4 separate regions of the Homo sapiens genome follow, and regions 2, 3 and 4 are each linked to region 1. The links come from fine-mapping of genetic effects on gene expression. A gene starts in region 1. Each other region holds a variant in brackets. All regions are shown on one strand. Distances are between the middles of the regions. Region 1 holds the start of ZNF544 (zinc finger protein 544). Region 2 overlaps ZNF544 (zinc finger protein 544). Region 3 overlaps ZNF132-DT (ZNF132 divergent transcript). Region 4 overlaps ZNF8-DT (ZNF8 divergent transcript).

Region 1 (5,424 bases):
CCCTTTTATTTAGACATCAAGGTAAAAGTAACTTTTTTTTTTTTTTTTTTTGAGTCAGAGGCAGGCTGGAGGAGTGCAGTGGCACCATCTCGGCTCACTGCAACCTCCACCTCCTGGGCTCAAGCCATTCTCCTGTCTCAGCCTCCTGAGTAGCTGGGATTACAGGTGCCCACCACCACACCTGGCTAGTTTTTGTATTTTTAGTAGAGACAGGGTTTCGCCATGTTGGCCAGGCTGACCTTGCACTCATGACCTCAGGTGATTCACCTGTCTCAGCCTCCCAAAGTGCTGGAATTACAGGCATAAGCCACTGTGCCCAGCCAAAGGTAACATTTTTAATGTAACAATATATGGTCATTCTTTGCTCTTATGACACAATCCTACAAAAGGCGATCACTAAGCTTAAGCACTAAGCCTAAAACTGAATAATATAAACACTGATGTAGGGAAAGTTGTTCCTCAGACGACTCCATTATTGATACAGACATGGAAACAGTAAACAGAAATGTAACATCAAAGTTCTTATTTACTTGAACTTTTTTTTTTTTTGAGACGGAGTCTCCCTCTGTTGCCCAGGCTAGAGTGCAGTGGCGTGATCTTGGCTCACTGCAAGCTCCGCCTCCTGGGTTCAGGGCCATTCTCCTGCCTCAGCCTCCCAAGGAGCTGGGACTACAGGCTCCCGCCACCACGCCCGGCTAATTTTTTGTATTTTTTGTAGAGACGGGGTTTCACCATGTTAACCAGGATGGTCTCGATCTCCTGACTTCGTGATCGGCCTGCCTCAGCCTCCCAAAGTGCTGGGATTACAGGCGTGAGCCACCACTCCTGGCCTGAAATTTTCTATAATAAAAACAAACAAGATCATTTATTATCTCATAATGAAAAGTCCCTGAGGTGAGCATAGGCAATGTTGATTCAGTGGCACAAAGAGGATTCATTCCATCATGGATACTGGTTCTTTCCATTTTTCTGCTGTGCCATTCTCAGCATGTTGCCTTTACCTCCTGGGGTGGCTTCCTCATGGTGCCAGTGTGCTTGTAATTGTCCTACACATCACATACAGACATCACGGTCCAGGGGCAAAAGAAGACACATTGCTATCTTATGTCCACTTTTAAGACTGAGGGAACCGGCCGGGAGCGGTGGCTCATGCCTGTAATGCCAGCACTTTGGGAGGCCGAGGCGGGTGGATCATGAGGTCAGGAGATCGAGACCATCCTGGCTAACAGGGAGAAACACCGTCTCTACTAAAAAAGAAAAATTACAAAAAATTAGCCGGGCGTGGTGGCGGGCGCCTGTAGTCCCAGCTACTCGGGAGGCTGAGGCAGGAGAAAGGCGTGAACCCGGAAGGCGGAGAGTGCCGTGGGCCTAGATCGTACCACTGCACTCCAGCCTGGTGGACAGAGCGAGACTCCGTCTCACAAAAAAAAAAAAAAAAAAAAAAAAAAAAAAAGACTGAGGGAACCTTCCCAGGAAACCCCTAGCAGCCTTATTTCTCCTTGGCCAGAATATCCTTGCCTAATTCACACAGCAAGAAGCTTGAGTCCATTCTGATTAGCTTAGAATCCATCAAGATCCTCCCTTAGGGAGTTAGATTCTAGATTTCCCGGAAGAATCTAAAAATTGCAGGGTCGTGCTAGCCAGGTATGAAAATAAGCAAGTAAAAAGATGATGACTGTTGGGTAAAGCTATCGACAAGGTCAGCTACAAAACAGTCAAGCCAAGGAAGGCTAGTCACAGATGCACCCCAGACACAAAAGCACAGTCCAGGAGCTGAGGGTGCCTGAGCCACAGTGGTTCCCGCCTACCTGGCCTTCGTAGGAAAGTTTCCTGTGGTCTCCCTCATTGAAGAGCCAGGACGGGTCAGGCGGTGGTGGGTCTCAGACATTGAGCCCCACAACGCACTGAGACTGAACATCAGACCATTTATAATAACAGAACTCTGTCCCACAACTTCTGCAGCAATAGGTACAAAACAGAACTTGGTCACTGCCAGCCTCCCTATTTTTTTCCCTGTCCCACTTAGGAGCTACCACAGAAAGCCAAATAGGCTCGACTGAGCGATCACCTAGGACGAATCGCCTCCAGTTAGCGTGCTTCCACCTTCCACTCGGAATGCTCCAAGCAGGGCACTCCCGGGGCTTTGTTTCTATCACTAGGACGCGTCCCCACGCCCAGGCTGTCCCTGAGTCCCTGCCACAGGCGCAGATGTTGGCGGGCGCCCTTGCCCCTGAGCTCCCGGTTAACGGCCTTGGACTGTTCTCATGGCTCAGTCTTGGTCTCTCTCCCCAGCAGGGCAAGGCGCCGGGAAGGCACCCGAGATGACAGCGCCGAGCCCCATAGGCGCTAGTCCCGCCCTGGACGCCGACCGCCGCCTCCACAGTCTCGGCTTCGGTTGCTGGATGAGAACCAGCGTGGCCCGTTTAAGGGGGAGGGGACAGGCGCTGCAAGGAGCAGAGCCGCGGGAAGCAACTCCCTAAGCCACAATGCTAGTCGCGAACACAGGAAAAAGCTCATCCCGCCGCCGCGGGGCCCCATGCTCCCGCCGGCAATGACTATGCCTGTGGGAGCAACGGCTACCGGCGCGCGGCCTTCTGGGAGTTGTTTGTTGCGCGGAGCGCGGGCACGTCCGCCGGCCACCGGAAGCACCGCCATTGGCCGGTGCGTGCAGGTGAGTCTGGCGGCCTCAAGGTTGGCTCGGAGGTTTCACTGTTAGCCGGGTGCGGCCGGAGCGCAGGACCAGGCCAGAGCCGCCCCAAGTGATCTGGGCGTGCCGGAGAAACGAGCAGGGCCTGCGGGGGTCCCTCATGCGGCGAGGCCGAGCAAGGGCAGGGGCCTGATGGGATCGGGATCTCTCCGGCCTCAGGGACGGGGAAGGCCGGTCCAGTCAGGTTTCCCCTGCAGGAGCGCCCGGCTGGGTCTGAGCTTGTCGGGAGGCTCTCCTGCTGCAGAGCTGGGAGGGAACTTATAGTACCTCGCAGGTACGGGCAGGGGTGGAACTGGGTGGGACTGGGTGGGACTGGGTGGGACTGGGTGGGACTGGGTGGGCCCTCCCGACAGAGGGTGCCTGGGTCGAGGGCTGCAGGGGCGGGGGATTCAGGCTGGCGTCTGGAGCTCTGGGGCTGCCGACCCAGCGGGCCTCTCCCGGCTCCTTTTTCCTCCCTCAACTCATCTTCTGCGGCTTATCCACAGGTGGCAGCCAAGAGCCTCCTGGCACAGCGGCACCAGGCAGGTGACGCCTATTGGACCCCAGAGGTCATCCCAGCTCCAGACGTGGACACATTTTCTTCCAATGGTACGTGAAGCTTGAACCTTGCAGAGAACATGTGTATTTTCCAAGTGAACAGAAGATTAAGGCCAGTCCACGCAGGGCAGGGGTAACTGGGGTGTTGGGGGCCTGCACTGGTTAAGCGATGCTGGTGCACCCCATAGAGAGACTACAGAGGTGAACAGGATGGGATGTGTATGTAACGCCTGTAAGTTAGGGATCGGGGTTCCATTTGTGTTGGGTGATATTTGATGGGGACCGTACAAGGCAGTGCTAATGAGGAAGGCATGGGGTTGGATTTCAAGAGTCTAAGGGAGTAGGGAAACATCTGATTGTGGAAATGACTCCGTGTAAGGAGGGATGCCAAAAGACAGGAAGGAGTGGAGGAAGACTGTGTTTCTGTTTCCAGCGTGGAGCCAGGGTAGAAGTCACAGTGCAAGGAAGATGTGGTATGCCTGGTCAGTCTCTGCATGGGAGTTGAGGAGCATGTGGGTGACATGGCTGAATGTGGAGGAGGGAATGGCAGTGGCAGGAAGCCCAGGAGGTTTGGGCTGGACACGTAACCTGGAGCAGATTGGAAACGTCACCCCACAAGCAGGGAAGGAGAAAACTGGAAAAGGAAAGAGAAAGCAACTCCCTCCCCAGCCCTGCAGCCAGAGGGACTTCTGCCAGATCAGCCACCATACAGGTCCAGTATGAGGAACAGATGGGGAATTTTATGTCCAAGTATAATCACTATGAATACATGTGTTGTGCCCCTTTTGCAGGTTAACACAATGTTAAGCTCTGTAAATGCAACTCAATTAATTCTTTTAGCATCCTCACAAGGCAGGTCTTGCTGTTTTTCCAGATGTCTACGGATGAGGAAACTGAGGCCTGGAGAGGTTAAAGAGACCCGTTCAGAGTCCTACAGTGGCAGGTAATGGAGCCAGTACTTTGACAGCAGGTTGCAAAGTGAGTGTTCTCAGCCGTTGCCCTTGGATGCCTCCAGACAAGGAAGGACAGGGTTAGAGAGCAAAGATGGACACAGGCAGTGAGAGATTCCCCAGGGAAGGCCAGGAGCATCAGGACAAGATAGTAACACATAAGATATTGGGCAGACCTCTTGGATGTGGTCTACATTTGTGTTTGTGTGTGTGTTTGGGAGTGAGAGAGCAGAGCAGGATGGGCAAGATGAGGAGGGGGAAACTGAGAGTGTTGGTCACTCTGTTCAGGCCTCACCTGAGAGGAGAAGAGGCAGGGGGTGGGGCACTGGGATATGGATTCATCTTGACCAGGGAGAAGACATCTCAGCTCAGAATTTGAAGGGAGCTACTAATGAGTGCAGGCCTGCAGGAGTTTGTGTGCCAGGAGGTTGAAAGAGTCCAGAGTCATCCCTTGGAGTGAATTAAAAGGCCGATTTGTCTGCACAGAGAGGACAGTGGTGGGAGGGGACTGAAGTAGGGTGTGAGAGCATGAGCTCGCAGCTGTAAGGGGATAGTGACTGAGTGGATACTGGTGTTCCTGAACTCCTATACCACCCAGAACTCAGAAACTAGCAGGGTTGGGCAGAGAGGGCAGTCAAGGGCATAGGCAGATTGCACAGAACAAACAGATCAGAGAGGCCAAGAGGTGGGCCTCAGGCCAAGGATGTTAAGAAAAAGAACAGGGGCATTGGGCTGGGCTGGGGTGGGGTGTACCAGACGGGGAGGCTGGGAGCCTGAGTGGTAGTGTGCTTAGGGCCATGAGCTATGGAGCTCCCACCTTCTCACTCCCCAGCCACGAGGCCTCAGTTAAATTTTACTCAAGTTCTTTCTGCCTTGGTTTCCTCATTTAGAAAGCAGGGTAAATTCTGTTAATTGTCTTTGTGGGGTTACAAGGAAGATCAAATGCATGAATTCAGGCAGAGGACAGGGTACAGTGCCTGGCCTGTAGGAAGTACAGCCTGAGTGGTCAGTGGATTTTGAAAGGTAGGAAGGCCTGGGGCATTTGCTAGGGAAGGAAGCTGAGATCATAGGCCCCGGTGTGTTTTAATTCATGTCTTTATTATTTATTTTTTTATAAATGGGGTCTCACATGTTGCCCAGGCTTGTCTCGAACTTCTAGCCTCAAGAGAGCCTCCTGCCTTGGCCTCACAAAGTGCTGGGATTATATGTCTTTAATACAGAGCAGCTTTG
Region 2 (5,424 bases), 28 kb after region 1:
GAGGTCAGGAGATCAAGACCATCCTGGCTAACATGGTGAAACCCCATCTCTACTAAAAATACAAAAAATTAGCCAGGCCTGGTGGCGGGCACCTGTAGTCCCAGCTACTTGAGAGGCTGAGGCAGGAGAATGGCGTGAACCCGGGAGGCATAGCTTGCAGTAAGCTGATATCACGACACTGCACTCCAGCCTGGGTGACAGAACGAGACTCCATCTCAAAAAAAAAAAGGAACAGCAGCACAAATGCCTGGATACATGCAACTCCATCTCACTTTCCCATTCAACAGCAAACTCCAGATTCCAAACAATGTTGGGGCCAAACAGTATTGCAAAAGAATATCAAGTGTTTCCTCCTTAGATTATCAGGGTCAAATTTATTCCAGTCGTTGAGGATGCAGCCAAGCAGGGAGTCAGATGGAATAGATGGAGTGTTTCCTATTATTGTCTGTAAGAGAGAAAATCCTAGGGAGGGTGTAGTACTATTCCTCAGAACCTCAGCCTAGGGTGTCCCCTTTGGAGAGGTTGAGGTCTGGAGTTGGATCCCCTAGAGGATCCCCCTTTGGGGTCCAATCTTAGAGTGTCAGACATCTCTGACTTTAGGTGGGCACCAGTGCTGCTTTATATGTTTTCCCTCCAGTGGCGATGGTCTACTGTGAGCTTTCCTTTGGTTCCTGGGCGTAATCCCAGACTTTTAGTATCCCACTAATTTCAGTGTGATGTATCTTCCTGCATTCCTCACAGGACTAAGGAGGTTCTGAAACATTGCAGAGTTAATAGTACCAAGGTTGGTGGGGTATTCTCTGTGAAGGAAGGATCCAGCGGTATGTGAAAGACTGAGATTGAGAATTTCTTTCTTTCTTTTTTTTTTTTTTTTCTTGAGACAGAGTTTTTCTTTTTTTGAGATGGAGTCTCACTCTGTCGCCCAGGCTGGAGTGCAGTGGCGCGATCTCGGCTCACTGCAAGCTCCGCCTCCCGGGTTCACGCCATTCTCCTGCCTCAGCCTCCTGAGTAGCTGGGACTACAGGCGCCCGCCACCACGCACGGCTAATTTTTTGTACTTTTTAGTAGAGATGGGGTTTCACCATGTTAGCCAGGATGGTCTCGATCTCCTGACCTCGTGATCTACCCGCCTCAGCCTCCCAAAGTGCTGGGATTACAGGTGTGAGCCACAGCGCCCAGCCTTAGACGGAGTTTTGGTCTTGTTGCCCAGGCTGGCTGGAGTGCAGTGGCATGATCTCGGGTCACTGCAACCTCCGCCTCCCGAGTTCAAGCAGTTCTCCTGCCTCAGCCTCCTGAGTAGCTGGGGATTACAGGCGTGTGCCACCATGCCCAGCCAATTTTTTTGTATTTTTAGTAGAGCTGTGGTTTCACCATGTTGGCCAGGCTGGTCTCAAACTCCTGACCTCAGGTGATCCACCCGCCTTGGCCTCCCAAAGTGCAGAGATTACAGGTGTGAGCCACTGCACCTGGCTGGGGTTGAGAATTTCTGTGAGATTCAGGGAAAGCAAATTGATGCAGAAGCAATGACCGTCAACCTATGGGATCCCCTCAGTGAAGTCTGAGATGTAGAATGTCTACTGAAGCTTGTGGATCCCAAAGGTCTTCAGACAGTCAAATCGAGTAAGAGAAGGTAAGTCAAATGCATGAGATACATTATCTTTTGCCCTTACAGGCTGACTTTAAGGAGAATTTTGCATAAGAAAAGAGGATTTAAGTCACCTGAAATATGCGTGAGTTCGCCCTGGATGAGCTGCCGCTGCCAGTTGCATCACAGATAGGGATCAGGGACTGTAACTGGAAAATAGAGAAAAGAGTCTTTTCCCCTTCTGGGCAGGGCAGCTATCCCCATTTACGCCTTGGCCTTCAGGCAACACCAGAGGGTGGCCCTGGCCAGCTGCCCTCAGTTACCAAGGAACTAGTAGGAAACGGCAGCTGAAAGATTTTCTGAAAAAGAGAAAAAGGAAAAGGACTAAGGTCCTTCACCCGAACTGGGTGGTAGCGGTCAGGCACTTCCACACAGAAATCTTTCCGTTTCACCAGAGAGTGGCTCCGGCCAGAAACTTACAGTTGCTTGCATGCTTATGTGCTGTCCACCAAGGATCCGTAAGTTGGAAAGGGAAAAAGAGAGAGAGAAAAGGATTCCCCTATATGGAAAAGGGAAAACAAAAAGAGAAAAGAAAGAAATCCCAAACCTCGAGCCTACCTCCTGGCTGGCTCACCAAAATATGTTACCAGTGGAGGGTGTCTATGTTCTTGGCATTGTGTTCTTTTACTTTTTTTTTTTTGAGATGGAGTCTTGTTGTACCCAAGCGAGTTAAAAATACGCCACACTTTGAGACGAATTAAGAGTCCTTAATTAAGCCGGCGGCCAAAGAGACGGCTAATGCTCAAAATTCTCTCGGCCTCGAGGAAGGGGCTTGATTAACTTTTATACCTAGGTTTAGGAAGGGGAGAGGGACTCAAATGCAATAAGTCTACAGAAGTAAAAACATGCAAGAATCAACAGAAGCAAAATGGTTACAGAGAGATAAACAACTTAAACGGTTACAAGAAGAGCAACGGTACCACGTGCAAGGTTCTAAATCTTTCATTATAATTAGATATATAGGGTCTATGCCGGACACAAACTCAAGGTTTTCTGTTGTTATCTCTTTGAGAAAAATCCTGGGAACTTCATACATTGTTGGTGTTAGTGCCTTATCAGTTAATTGGGCTCTTTTGAAATGCTGAGGATCTGTTTACCCAGGCCAACTCCTTAGGAAAGGGGGTTGGGTAAGGAGCCCTTAGTGTCTTGTAAATTAAGG[G/A]GTCAATTGGAGTTTGTCCGGCCTTCCCAGCTAGAGAGAGTCTTATTTACATGAGAAGCAAGGCTAGGTGATTAAAGAGACAAGCAGGACAAAATTCAAAGTAACCAGTTAGAGTAAAAACAAGCTTAGGCATTTCAGTCTCACTCTGTTGCCCAAGCTGGAGTGCAGTGGCACGATCTCTGCTCACTGCAAGCTCCGCCTCCCAGGTTCACGCCATTCTCCTGCCTGAGCCTCCTGAGTAGGTGGGACTACAGGCACCCACCACCACGCCCGTCTAATTTTTTGTATTTTTATTAGAGACGGGTTTTCACCATGTTAGCCAGTATGGTCTCGATCTCCTGACCTCGTGATCCACCCGCCTCGGCCTCCCAAAGTGCTGGGATTACAGGCATGAGCCACCACGCCTGGCTGGTTCTTGGCATTTTTAACAAAGAATTGGACGAAACACACAAAGCAACAAAAGAAGCAACAAAAGCATAGCTGTATTGAAACAAAAATGCACTTCACAGAGTGGGAGCAGGCCCAAGCAAGGCTCAAAAGCACTGGTCGCAGAATTTTCTGGGGTTTAAATACCCTCTAGATGTTTCCCATTGGTCACTTGGTTTACACCCTATGAAATAGTGGCCCATGACCAGTCTGATTGGTTGTGGAAGGTGACCAAGCAGAGGCTGAAGTGAAGTTACAAAGTTACGCTCTATGCAGATGTCTGACTGGTTGCAGGAGGGGACCAATCCGAGGCACTTTCCATTTTTCATCTGCAACACAGAAAGTTGGGGGGAGTTGCAAAGGGAGTAGCCTCTGATCCTTTTGTTACGTGGGCATGGAAATTTAGGGTTTTCCTTTTGATTCCGTTCATGAAGTCAGCATGAATCAGCCTTAGGCTCCCTGCCCCCAGACCCTATTCTCCTGCCTCACTGGCAACCACTGATCTTTATCCTGTCTCCATAGTTTTGCCTTTTTCAGAATGTCATAGTTGGGGTCATTCACTACGTAGCCTTTTCCGACTGGCTGCTTTCACTAAGCAACATGCATCGTGTGTATCTTCATACCACCCTCTCACGTTTCCCCCAGGCTGGAGATGTTGAGTTTATCTGAATTTTTCTCGTGTCTTCCTGCTCCTCCTTCCTTGTAACTCTCTCGCCTGCAGCCTCTGTTATTTCTTCCTCTGAAGGTGCACCCAGGCTTACTTATCTACCCTCCTCCCTGGGCCATGCCCTGCACACCATACCTCAGTCATGTCATCCTGGATTCTGTTTACTGTCAGTCTTTCTGTTTGGCATAGGCATCCCTCTTGGCTGGCCTGTGAGGACAGCCCCTTTCCTCATTTCATGCTCCTAATGGAGAAGCCACTGCAAGATATTTAATGTCCTTCACCTGATTTTCCATGGCCACGCAAAACCTGGACACAACTCAGCCACCCACTGACTTCTTTCCTGCTTCTCATCCTCAAATACCCTTCATTGGGCTGTTGTTTCTTTTGAAAACATCCTCCCATGAGGGATTCCACAGTGATTCCCCAGAGGAACCACAGAGTTGGGATGAGGACAGTGCAAGTGTGAGAGTGCTGGGTGTGAGGGCACTGGGTGTGAGGGCACCAGGTGTGAGGGTGCTGGTTGCGAGGGCACCAGGTGTGAGGGTGCTGGGTGCGAGGGCACCAGGTGTGAGGGTGCTGGGTGCGAGGGCACCAGGTGTGAGGGTGCTGGGTGTGAGGGCACCAGGTGTGAGGGTGCTGGGTGTGAGGGCACCAGGTGTGAGGGTGCTGGGTGTGAGGGTGCTGGGTGTGAGGGCACCACGTGTGAGAGTGCTGGGTGTGAGGGCACCAGGTGTGAGGGTGCTGGGTGCATGCAAGGATCTTGCCCAGGAGGGAAGAGAGCTTTTGATTGAGAGGAGGGAAACATCCTCTCAGAAGTCAAGGGATGGCCACAGAGTGTAGTTAATGTGTTGCCAAAGGATCCTTGTGTCCTCATGAGCTCAGAGAGTGAGGCATGAGAACTTGAGGTAGGCCGCAGTAGTGTTGACCGTGGTGGCCATGCAAACATAATGAACAGAGTGACAAGCAGAGTGGAGGATCTTTAGGACCTGGACAAGGATCCTGAGCTGGGAGCCTCTGCCACTCATTTTTAGAGGCTCCGTATCTTCAACAGAGAGGAATCCCCACCAGGACAATAACAAGGATGGCAAGATCAACCATATTTTGTAATATCAGTGCCAGACACTGTGTGAGGCTCACATAGTGATTCATTGATGCCTCAAAATAAATCTTGTAGGCTAAACATTCTTACTCCGGGCTACAGCAAGGAAAATGAACCTCTAAGAGGCTAAGGACCTGTCTGAAGTGGCAAACGGTGGAGCCCAGATGCAGCCAGTCATGCTGATCATGCTGCTTCAGAGACCATGCAGTCTTTTCTGGAGAGTCTTCTATTGGGTCAATTCTGGAATGCTTAAATAAGTTTTTCTCTGTTTGCAGCCTGAAGAAATGGTAGAATTGGTGCATTAAGAATATGAAGTCAGTGTTGATGTCTGAGATGCAATTATGAGATCCAGAAGTGGAACAGAAACTGATATTCTAGGACTAAGCACCAGTTAGGAGTCTGTGTTTGCTTCCTGTGGCTGCTGTAAA
Region 3 (5,424 bases), 220 kb after region 1:
GGAAGACAGCTGTGGCAGAGCTGTTGGCAGTGCCCTGGTGGCTCACCTGGTACCTGAGTTGTGCCCTCTGTTGTCCTGGCACCAGGATGTATAGCTGTGCCTTTTAAAAAAAATTTTCCTGACCTTCTTCTGACACTCTATCCTACTTTGCCCTGACTCCTGTTCCCTGGATGGCTTCCTCTCTGTCTTCCAAGATTCACTCTTTCCCCTTCTCCCGTCCTCCCCTCCAGTGGCCAGGTCTTCTACCATTGGCCTCCCTTTAATGTGTCTTGAACGGATAATGTATCTTTAAATAGTTGTTATCTGCACATGGTGGCTCATAACTACAGTCCCAACTACTTGGGATGCTGAGGCAGGAGGAGCGCTTGAGACCAGGAGTTTGAGTCCAGCTTGGGCAACATAACGAGATCCTATCTCTAAAATAAATAAATAAATACATAGATACCTAAATAGTTTTTGAAAACCTCTTCTTCCGTGAGACTGGCTTGTTCCATTTGAGGAGTATGGGCATAGGTGTCAATGGTTCAAGACCTGGACTTCGCTCACTGCATGGTACTGACCTGTCACCAGACACTAGGGCCCTGCAGCTCCACATTTTGCAGAACCTACAGAGAACTGACACTGAAGAGATAGCTGATAAATACACAGCATATGGAAAGGTGTTTGAGGGGAAGCAAGCCTTTTCTCCTACCAAAAAACTTCACAGTGGAAAAAATTGCAAGTGTATTATGAGCATGGGAAGGCCTTCACTTTTGTCTTCATCCTGAGAAAGCAGGAGTACATGCACATCTTCAAAGGCCCTTACAAGTATAGTAACATGGGGAATCCTCCAGCCAGAACTCTACCTCCTTTGAGCACCAATATGTTCACCCCAGAGAAAGTCCCCATAAGCGCAAGGAGTGTGGTCCAGCCATGAGCAAAATTTTGCAAAACTCTCCTCTGTATCAAAATGGTCATACCCTAATGAAGGACTCCTAAGTTCAGGGAATGTGGGGCACTGCCAGCTGTCCTGGTGGCTTCCCTGGTACCTGACTTGAGGTTCATACATGTTATATTCAGAGTTCTGCTTTCATTAGCAAAAACAAATTAACACCGGAAAATGGTTGTACAAATGCAATAACTACATGAAAGCTTTCAGTGAAATATGAAACCTCATCCTGCAGAATTCTCATCAGAGAGGCCCAGTGCATGCAGCTAATGTTGGAAAGCCTATTCTCAATTTTAATCCTATTTAGCACCAGCAATTTACAGCATTGTGAGTGTAGCATGTAGGAGAGCAAAAAATTGCAGCTCCTGCCTTGATGTGCACAAAGTGATTCACACTGGAAAAACCCTCTATGAGTGCAGCCAGCATGGGAGAGCATCGGCCACAGCTCCTGCCTTGCTTGGCACCAGAAACTTCACCCTGGAGAAAAGCCTTTTGATTATAGTAAATGTAGGAAAGTCTTCACCTCCCTTATTTAGTATAAAAGAATTCACACTGGCCAGGTGTGGTGGCTCATGCCTGTAATCCCAGCACTTTGGGAGGCTAAGGCAGGGGGATCACCTGAGGTCAGGAGTTTGAGACCAACCTGGCTAACATGGCAAACCCCCTCTTTACAAAAAATACAAAAATCAGCTGGGCATGGTAACGCCCATCTGTAATCCCAGCTACACCAGAGGCTGAGGCAGGAGAATTGCTTGACCTCAGGGGGCAGAGGTTGCAGTGAGCTGAGTTAGAGCCACTGCACCCCAGACTGGGTGACAGAGCAAGACCCTGTCTCCCTCACCAAAAACAAACAAACAAACAAACAAAAAACACAGCTGGGTGCAGTGGCTCACGCCTGTAATCCCAGCACTTTGGGAGGCCGAGGCAGGCAGATCATTTGAGGTCAGGAGTTTGAGACCAGCCTGGCCAACATGATGAAACCCTGTCTCTACTAAAAACAGAAAAATTAGCCGGGCATGGTGGCAGGCACCTGTAATCCCAGTTACTCAGGAGGCTGAGGCAGGAGAATCACTTGATCCTGGAAGGCGGAGATTGCAGTGAGCCAAGATCATGCCACTGCACTCCAACCTGGGCAACAGAGTGAAACTCCATCTCAAAAAACAAACAAACAAAACAAAACCCAGCCCTACATGAGTAGCCTTCAGCCACAGCTAAACCTTGTGTAGAAGGATTCCTCCCTGAGGAGACACTCCATGATGGCCCTGCATGTGGAGAAGCTGACAGAACCCATGTTGTACCATGATCGCCCTGCATGTGGAGAAGCTGACAGAACCCATGTTGTACTTTGCAACCCGCTGAGGGACCTTGGCAGAGCTATCACACCACTGGGTCCTGTGGTGGAAGCCCATCTCTGTTTTATGGTGACTTCCCAGTTGCTCAATGTAAGTCACTCCCTGTTTCCTGTTTATACTACCTTGGAGGGATGGTAGGGGCCTTGCACACATTGGGGTGGTATCATGCTCACTCATGATGGGGTTTGACATGGACATGACCCCATTCCAAGCAAGGAGCCTGATTGGATAATTTCTTTCTCTTTTTTTTTTTTTTTTTTTTTTGAGATGGAGTCTTTCTCTGTCACCAGGCTGGAGTGCAGTGGTGCGATCTCAGCTCACTGCAACCTCCGCCTCCCGGGTTCAAGAGATTCCCCTGCCTCAGCCTCCCAAGTAGCTGGAATTACAGCCACACACCACCTCGCCCGGCTAATTTTTTGTATTTTAGTAGAGACAGGGTTTCACCATGTTGGCCAAGATGGTCTCGATCTCCTGACCTCGTGATCCCCCCACCTCGGCCTCCCAAAGTGCTGGGATTACAGGCATGAGCCACTGCACCCGACCTCTCTCCTTTTGTCTTTTCTTTTTTCTTTTCTTTTCTTCTTTCCTTTCCTTTCCTTTGCTTTCCTTTCCTTTTCTTTCTTTTCTCGTCCTTTCTTTTCTTTTCTCTCTTTCTTTTTTTTGAGGCAGAGTCTCACTCTGGTGCTCAGGCTGGAGTGCAGTGGCATGATCTCAGCTCACTGCAACCTCTGCCTCCCGGTTTCAAGCAATTCTTCTGTCTCAGCCTCCCAAATAGCTGGACTTACAGGCGTGTGCCACCATGCCTGGCTAATTTTTGTATTTTTACTAGAGACGGAGTTTCACCATA[T/C]ATTGGCCAGGCTGGTCTCAAACTCCTGACCTCAAGTGATCTGCCTGCCTCGGCCTCCCAAAGTGCTGGGATTACTGGCGTGAGCCACCATGCCTGGCCGACAATGCAGGAGCTTAACCAAAGGACCACGTTGGCTAGGGTCAATCAGCTGCCCCAGGTGACCACCCTTAGTGCTAATCCTGTGCAGGGTAGGGGTCTGAGCCAAAAAGAGGAGGCTCTTGTGTGTACAGAAGGCAATTTGTTGCTATTTTTATTTCATGCCCAATTCATTAAGAATGTTTCAAACAATTAGCATTTTTCTAAGTATTAAGTAATTAACATTTGCCTGAAGAATTACACATTAGATGGATAATGTAAAAATAAAGTGTTTAAGAAGTTAAACGTCTCCAAACATTAAACATTACTTGAGATTGGACATGATGGGTCATGACTGTAATCCTAGCAGTTTGGGAGGCTGAGGCAGGTGGATTGCTTGAGTACAGGAGTTCGAGACCAACCTGAGAAACATGGTGAAACCTCGTTTCTACAAAAAAAGTAAATAAAATTAGCCAGGTGATATGGTTTGGCTGTGTCCCCACCCAAATCTCATCTTGAATTGTAACTCTCATAATTCCCACACGTTGTGGGAGGGACCCAGTGGGAGATAAGTGAGTCATGGGGGCAGTTTCCCCACACTGTTCTCGTGGTAGTGAATAAGTCTCAAGAGACCTGATGGTTTTATAAGGGGTTTCCTCTTTTGCTTGGCTCTCATTTGCTCTTACCTGCCACCATGTAAGACAGGGCTTTCACCTTCTGCCATGATTGTGAGGCCTCCCAGCCACATGGAACTGTGAGTCCATTAAACCTCTTTGTCTTCATAAATTACCCAGTCTCAAGTATGTCCTTATCAGCAATGTGAAAACAGATGAATATAGTAAATTGGTAGAGTGGGGTACTGCTATAAAGATACCCGAAAATGTGGAGGCAACTTTGGAATTGGGTAACAGGCAGAGGTTGGAACAGTTTGGAAGCCTCAGAAGGAGATAGGAAAATGTGGGAATGTTTGGAACTTCCTAGAGACTTGTTGAATGGCTTTGACCAAAATGCTGATAATGATATGGGCAATGAACTCCAGGCTGAGGTAGTCTCAAATGGAGATGAAGTTGTTGGGAACTGGAGTAAAGGTGATGCTTGCTATGTTTTAGCAAAGAGACTGGTGGCATTTTGCCCCTGCTGTAGAGATTTGTGGAACTTTGGATTTGAGGGAGATGACTTAAAGTATCTGGTCCGGGTGCAGTGGCTCACGCCTGTAATCCCAGCACTTTGGGAGGCTGAGGCAGGTGGATCATGAGGTCAGGAGATCAAGACCATCCTGGCTAACATGGTGAAACCCCGTCTCTACTAAAAAAATACAAAGAAATTAGCCTGGCATGATGGCGGGTGCCTGTAGTCCCAGCTACTCAGGAGGCTGAGGCAGGAGACTGGCATGAACCTAGGAGGCGGAGCTTGCAGTGAGCCAAGATTGCAACACTGCCCTGCAGCCTGGGTGACAGAGCAAGACTCCATCTCAAAAAAAATAAAAATAAAAATAAAGTATCTGGTGGAAGAAATTTCTAAGCAGCAAAGCATTCAAGAGGTGACTTTGATATTATTAAAAGCATTCAGTTTTAAAAGGGAAATACAGCATAAAAGTTCAGAAAATTTGCAGCCTGACCATGCAACAGAAAAGAAAAACACATTTTCTGTGGAGAAATTCAAGAAATTTGCATAAGTAACCAGGAGTCAAATGTTAATCGCCCGGACAATGGGGAAAATATCTCCAGGACATGTCAGAGACCTTTGTGGCAGCCCTTCCCATCACAGGCCCAGAGGCCTAGGAGGAAAAAATGGTTTCGTGGGCTCCCCCTGCTGTGTGCAGCCTACAGACTTGGTGCCCTGCATCCCAGCTGCTTGAACTATGGCTAAAAGGAGCCAAGGTACAGCTTAGGCTGTGGCTTCAGAGGGTGCAAGCCTCAAGCCTTGGCAGCTCCCATGTGGTGTTGAGCCTGTGGGTGCACAGAACTCAAGAACTGAGGTTTGGGAACCTCCACCTAGATTTCAGAAGATGTATGGAAATGCCCAGATTTGGAGCAGGCAAAAGTTTGCTGCAGGGGCAGGGCCCTCATGGAGAACCTCTGGTAGGGCAGTGCTGAAGGGAAATGTGGGGTTGAAGACCCCACACTGAGTCCCCACTGGGGTACTGCCTAGTGGAGCTGTGAGAAGGGGGCCACCATCCTCCAGACTCCAGAATGGTAGATACAACCAACAGCTTGGACCAC
Region 4 (5,424 bases), 39 kb after region 1:
GAGTGCAGTGGCGCAGTCATGGCTCACTGCAGCCTCAGCCTGGATCAACTGATCCTCCTGTCCTTGCCTCCTAAGTAGCTGGGACCATAGGCATGTGACATGAAGCCTGGCTAAATTTATTTTTTTAGAGACGAGGTCTCACCATGTTGCCCAGGCTGGTCTTGAACTCCTGGGCCCAAGTGATCTCCAGCCTTGGCCTCCCAAAGTCCTGGGATTACAGGCATGAGCCATAGTGCATACTATTACTGCACATTTAAGCAGGATAAGAGCCAATGGGAGGGTGAGCATGGTGGCTTATGCCTGTAATCCCAGCACTTTGGAAGGCCGAGGCAGGCAGATCCCTTGAGGTTAGGAGTTCGAGACCAGCCTGGCCAACATGGTGAAATCCCATCTCTACTAAAAGTACAAAAAATTAGCCAGGTGTCATGGCATGTGCCTGTAATCCCAGCTACTCGGGAGGCTGAGGCAGGAAAATCACTTGAACCCAGAAGGTGGAGGTTGCAGTGAGCCGAGACTGCGCCGTTGAACTCCAGCCTGGGCAAAAAAGCGAAAAGCGAGACTCTGTCTCAAAAAAAAAAAAAAAAAAAAAAAGGGCTGTGTGCGGTGGCTCACGCCTGTGATCCCGACACTTTGGGAGGCCAAGGAGGGTGGATCACGAGGTCAGATCAAGACCATCCTGGCTAACACAGTGAAACCCCGTCTCTACTGAAAATACAAAAAATCAGCCAGGTGTGGTGGCAGGTGCCTGTAGTCCCAGCTACGAGGGAGGCTGAGGCAGGAGAATGGCATGAACCCAGGAGGCAGAGCTTGCAGTGAGCCAAAATCATGCCACTGCACTCCAGCCTGGGCGACAGAGTGAGACTCGGTCTCAAAAAAAAAAAAAAAAAAAAAAAAAGATGGAAGTATAGCCAATAGCGAAACATACAGAATGAGGAAGGCTGGAGAGGGTCAGGCGAGGAGAGGCTGTGGCAGCAGATGTGGCAGCCCCAGCAGAGCCATAGACTGATAGACCAGAAAGTGGGTTAATCGAAGGTCTGTCCATGAAACTCAGACTCTTCCCCATTTTTTTTTCTTGCCTGGCATTACCTATCTGGCTGTGGGTAGCAAAAATTAAAGTAGGGAAGGAGTCATGTGCTAAAAGATTAGTTCAGGGGACAAGGGAATCTGATGTATTTTGCTCTGCAGCAAGGGCTGCTTTATTCTGGCATTTCAGAACTTTTTACCTGATAGCTGGTTCTCGCCCTCTTCACCCTCGAGCAAAGCGTACTGTTAAAGCAGCCCCGCCTGTCTGTGGAGCTTCCTGTCTGCTTTCTGATAGTCTCTTCAATATGGGTGGGAGGCAAGGAGCAAAAGATAAAGTCTCCATCATGAGAGAAGGTATCTAAGACAGCAGAAAAGACAGATATTCAGAGGAACCAAATATTCTTTGTTTTTTGAGACGGAGTCTCATTCTGTTGCTCAGGCTGTAGTGCAGTGGCACGATCTCGGCTCACTGCAACCTTTGCCTCCCAGGTTCAAGCAATTCTCCTGCCGCAATGTCCCAAGTAGCTGGGATTACAGGCACGTGCCACCATGCCAAGCTATTTTTTGTATTTTCAGTAGACACGGGGTTTCACCATGTTGACCAGGCTGGTCTCAAACTCCTGACCTCAAGTAATCCACCCACCTTGGCCTCCCAAAGTGCTGGGATTACAGGTGTGAGCCACCGCACCCAGCAGAATCAAATATTTAAAGCATTTTGTTAACGTAAAAGTGAGTCAAGAAAGGGTTACAAGGCCGGGTGTGGTGGCTCATGCCTGTAATCCCAGTACTTTGGGAGGCCGAGGCGGTCGGATCGTGGGGTCAGGAGGTCGAGACCAGCCTGATCAACATGGTGAAACCCCATATCTACTAAAAATACAATACAAACATTAGCTGAGTGTGGTGGTGGGCGCCTGTAATCCCAGCTACTTGGGAGGCTGAGGCAGAGGTTGCAGTGAGCCGAGATCATGCCATTGCACTCCAGCCTGGGTGACAGAGCGAGACTCCATCTAAAAAAAAAAAAAAAAAAAAAAAAGGTCTGGTGCGGTGGCTCACGCCTGTAATCCCAGCACTTCGGGAGGCCGAGGCAAGCGTATCACGAGGTCAGGAGATCGAGATCATCCTGGCTAACAGGTGAAACCCCGTCCCTACTAAAAATACAAAAAATTAGCTGGGCATGGTGGCGGGCACCTGTAGTCCCAGCTACTCGGGAGGCTGAGGCAGGAGAATGGCGTGAACTCAGGAGAAGGAGCTTGCAGTGAGCCGAGATCACGCCACTGCACTCCATCCTGAGCAACAGAGCGAGACTGCGTTTCAAAAAAAAAAAGAGGGTTACCAGTAAAAAATAAGACAGACTGGGCGTAGTGGCTCACGCCTATAATCCCAACACTTTGGGAGGCCGAGGCGGGCGGATCACCTGAGGTTGGGAGTTTGAGATCAGCCTGACCAACATGGAGAAACCCTGTTTCTACTAAAAATACAAAATTAGCCGGGCATGGTGGTGCATGCCTGTAATCCCAGCTACTCAGGAGTCTGAGGCAGGAGAATCGCTTGAACCTGGGAGGTGGAGATTGCAGTGAGCCGAGGTCTAGTGCCATTACACTCCAGCCTGGGCAACAAGAGTGAAACTCCGTCTCAGAAAAAATAAATAAAAATAAAAAATAAGATACTTTGATAAAATAGAACAATGAGAACCAGAACAGGCTCTTTGAAATTACAAGTAAGATTGTTCAATGTTATAGATACAATGTTTAGTGAGAAACAGAATGCTTGTTGCCTGGTGCTGCAAAGAAATAGCACTCAAAACATAAATTTAATTCTCTCAGCAAGGCCGTTTTTACTTTCTGCAGAAAGGGTGCTCATCACAGATGGAACAATGGCAAGAGCACACCTGAACAAAGGAGGGAAGCAATTTTTATTCCTTAGGCAGTTTGTCCCTGCTACTGTGTCCTGTCTCCGTTGGCTGGAGCCAGCCTGCACAATCTAAACTAAAACTAGATTAGCTAACAGTTTAAAACTTTTCTAAATAGGTAAAAGTAGTGGAAAGACGAAGGAAAA[G/C]AGGAAGTTGCTTATGCCAGATATGGAAGGAGCATAGGCTGTAAGCTGGAACGTGACCATGAGCATGTCCAGCACAAATAACTTGGTTAAGGTACAGGGACATAGAACGTACTACGTGCCTGTGAGCATGTTTACCAGCTACATAGGATAGGGCCTAACAAAGACTTACTAGCACAAAGCAAGGAGGTTTCAAGGAAGTTAGTTTATAAAAGAAACTATTATTTTTTAACACTTATGATTTATTCTTTAACAAGAAGGGAAACTTTGAAGAGGAACTTTTACTTTCCACATTGAACAAATAAGTAAGAAAAAGAAAGGGAAACTTCCCCAGGGCTGAAAGGAAATTTTCAGGTCATGCCATTATTATCAGAATTAATAAGACCCATGCATCGTGGAAAACTGAGAACACCACGACTAAAAACAGATGGCAGGCTGGGCGTGGTGGCTCACGCCTGTAATCCCAGCTCTTTGGGAGGCTGAGGCAGGCAGATCACCTGAAGTCAAGAGTTTGAGACCAGCCTGGCCGACATTGTGAAACCTCATCTCTAATAAAAATTCAAAAATTAGCCAGGCATGGTGGCAGCCGCCTATAATCCCAGCTATTCAGGAGGCTGAGGCAGGAGAATCGCTTGAACTCGAGAGGTAGAGGTTGCAGTGAGCTAAGATTGTGCCACTGCACTCCAGCCTTGGGCGACAAAGCGAGACTCTGTCTCAAAAAAAAACAAACAAAAAAAATGTCAGGGTCGGGCATGGTGGCTCACACCTGTAATCCCAGCTACTTGGGAGGCTGAGGTAGGAGAATTGCTTGAACCCAGGAGGTGGAGGTTGCAGTGAGCTAAGATTGTGCCACTGCACTCCAGCGTGGGCGACAAAGCGAGACTCTGTCTCAAAAAAAAAAAAAAAAAAAAAGATGGCAGGGCTGGCATGGTGGCTCACGCCTGTAATCCCAGCACTTTGGGAGACCGAGGCAGGTGGATCACTCTAGGTTAGGAGTTTGAGACCAGCCTGGCCAAGATGGTGAAACCCTGTCTCTACTAAAGATACAAAAATTAGCCAAGTGTGGTGATAAATGCCTGCAATCCCAGCTACTCAGGAGGCTGACGCAGGAGTATCACTTGAACCTGGGAGGCAGAGGTTGCAATGAGTCTAGATCATGCCACTGGACTCCAGCCTGGGCGACAGAATGAGACTCTGTCTCAAAACAGAGCAAATGGCATGGCAGAACCTTCTCTAGAGAAAATAGTTTTGAATCTAAGAAAGGAATAGCTTTAATCTAGAAAAGGAATAGGGCAAGAAAAGGAATGTTTATTCACCCATAACTTAAAAAAAAAGGTAATTTTAATTGAAGGCTTCAAGGTAAATTGTGCTCAAACTATACAAATTCTGCTAGATGGTTATAGTTCCTATGTGAAGGTAACTTTAGAAAGTAGTGTTCACTTGACACTGATGTGAGTAATTCTTGCTGGAGGGGGCAAAAAGCTCATGAAATTTGAATAAAGGAGGAGGAGATGCAGTCAGATTGTTGATTGACCCTTCAGGGAATGGCATTTGCATAGCTGTGACGTGAACCCTAGGTATTGGCTTTTTTTTTCTTTTTTTTTGAGAAGGAGTCTCTGTTGCCCAGTCTGGAGTGCAGTGGCGCGATCTTGGCTCACTGTAACCTCCGCCTCCCGGGTTCAAGCAATTCTCCTGCCTCAGCCTCCTGAGTAGCTGGGATTACAGGCACGTGCCACCACGCCCAGCTAATTTTTGTATTTTTAGTAGACACAGGGTTTCACCATGTTGGTCAGGATGGTCTCCAACTCCTCACCTTGTGATCCGCCCACCTTGGCATCCCAAAGTGCTGGGATTACAGGGATGAGCCATTGCACCCGGCCTGTATTGGCTTTTAATTTTTAGGAAGTAACACATGGCTGTGACCTGACAACTTCATAGTGGCCGTAGGGTAGGGCACTGTTGTCATTATTCCTGTCACTGACAATGTCAGCCCCACCTGCAGATGTGGGAGAGTAGATGGGGAAAGTAGTAGTGGAGAGTAGAGGTTTCCCTTACCATCCTTTTAGGAAGTAGGCTTTTAAACATGATATGTAAGTTTATTTAGAAGATGAAAATTAAAGCTTGAAATGTAATATGAGAGGAATTGGCAGCGGATGTGAGTCAGATCCTCACCTGTCAGAGCAGGAAGTTAGTGAAAACTAAAGATGATTGGCTGGATGCGGTGGCTTATGCCTGTAATCCCAGCACTTTGGGAGGCTGAGGTGGGTGGATCACCTGAGGTCAGGAGTTTGAGACCAGCCTGGCCAACATGGTGAAACTCTGTCTCTACTAAAAATACAAAGATTAGCC

The links. PIP is the estimated chance that this variant, and not a neighbour inherited with it, causes the effect.
Region 2: its variant is the best candidate, but not a certain one, in a credible set for the expression of ZNF544 in whole blood (INTERVAL, PIP 0.85).
Region 3: its variant is the best candidate, but not a certain one, in a credible set for the expression of ZNF544 in cerebellar hemisphere (GTEx, PIP 0.82).
Region 4: its variant is the best candidate, but not a certain one, in a credible set for the expression of ZNF544 in tibial artery (GTEx, PIP 0.79).

Annotation. Positions count from the first base shown.
Region 1 is chr19:58,226,276-58,231,699 of GRCh38, forward strand. It overlaps ZNF544 (zinc finger protein 544), which reads left to right and starts at 2,639. Exons shown (of 7, transcript NM_014480.4): 1 at 2,639-2,671; 2 at 3,193-3,295; 3 at 4,119-4,187. RefSeq lists an enhancer at 2,515-3,341.
Region 2 is chr19:58,254,007-58,259,430 of GRCh38, forward strand. The region is part of intron 6 of ZNF544 (zinc finger protein 544); the gene reads left to right. ZNF8-DT (ZNF8 divergent transcript) reads right to left here. Exons shown (of 3, transcript NR_187495.1): 3 at 3,267-5,424. Among named protein-coding and RNA genes, the nearest start is that of ZNF8-DT, 22 kb to the right of the region's middle. The variant G/A (reference allele first, on the strand shown) is at 2,805.
Region 3 is chr19:58,444,052-58,449,475 of GRCh38, forward strand. It overlaps ZNF132-DT (ZNF132 divergent transcript), which reads left to right. Exons shown (of 1, transcript NR_186311.1): 1 at 1-450. It also overlaps a transcript of ZNF324B not described here and the pseudogene LOC100419848. Among named protein-coding and RNA genes, the nearest start is that of ZNF324B, 4.9 kb to the right of the region's middle. The variant T/C (reference allele first, on the strand shown) is at 3,128.
Region 4 is chr19:58,265,645-58,271,068 of GRCh38, forward strand. All of the region lies in intron 1 of ZNF8-DT (ZNF8 divergent transcript), which reads right to left. It also overlaps a transcript of ZNF544 not described here. Among named protein-coding and RNA genes, the nearest start is that of ZNF8-DT, 10 kb to the right of the region's middle. The variant G/C (reference allele first, on the strand shown) is at 3,079.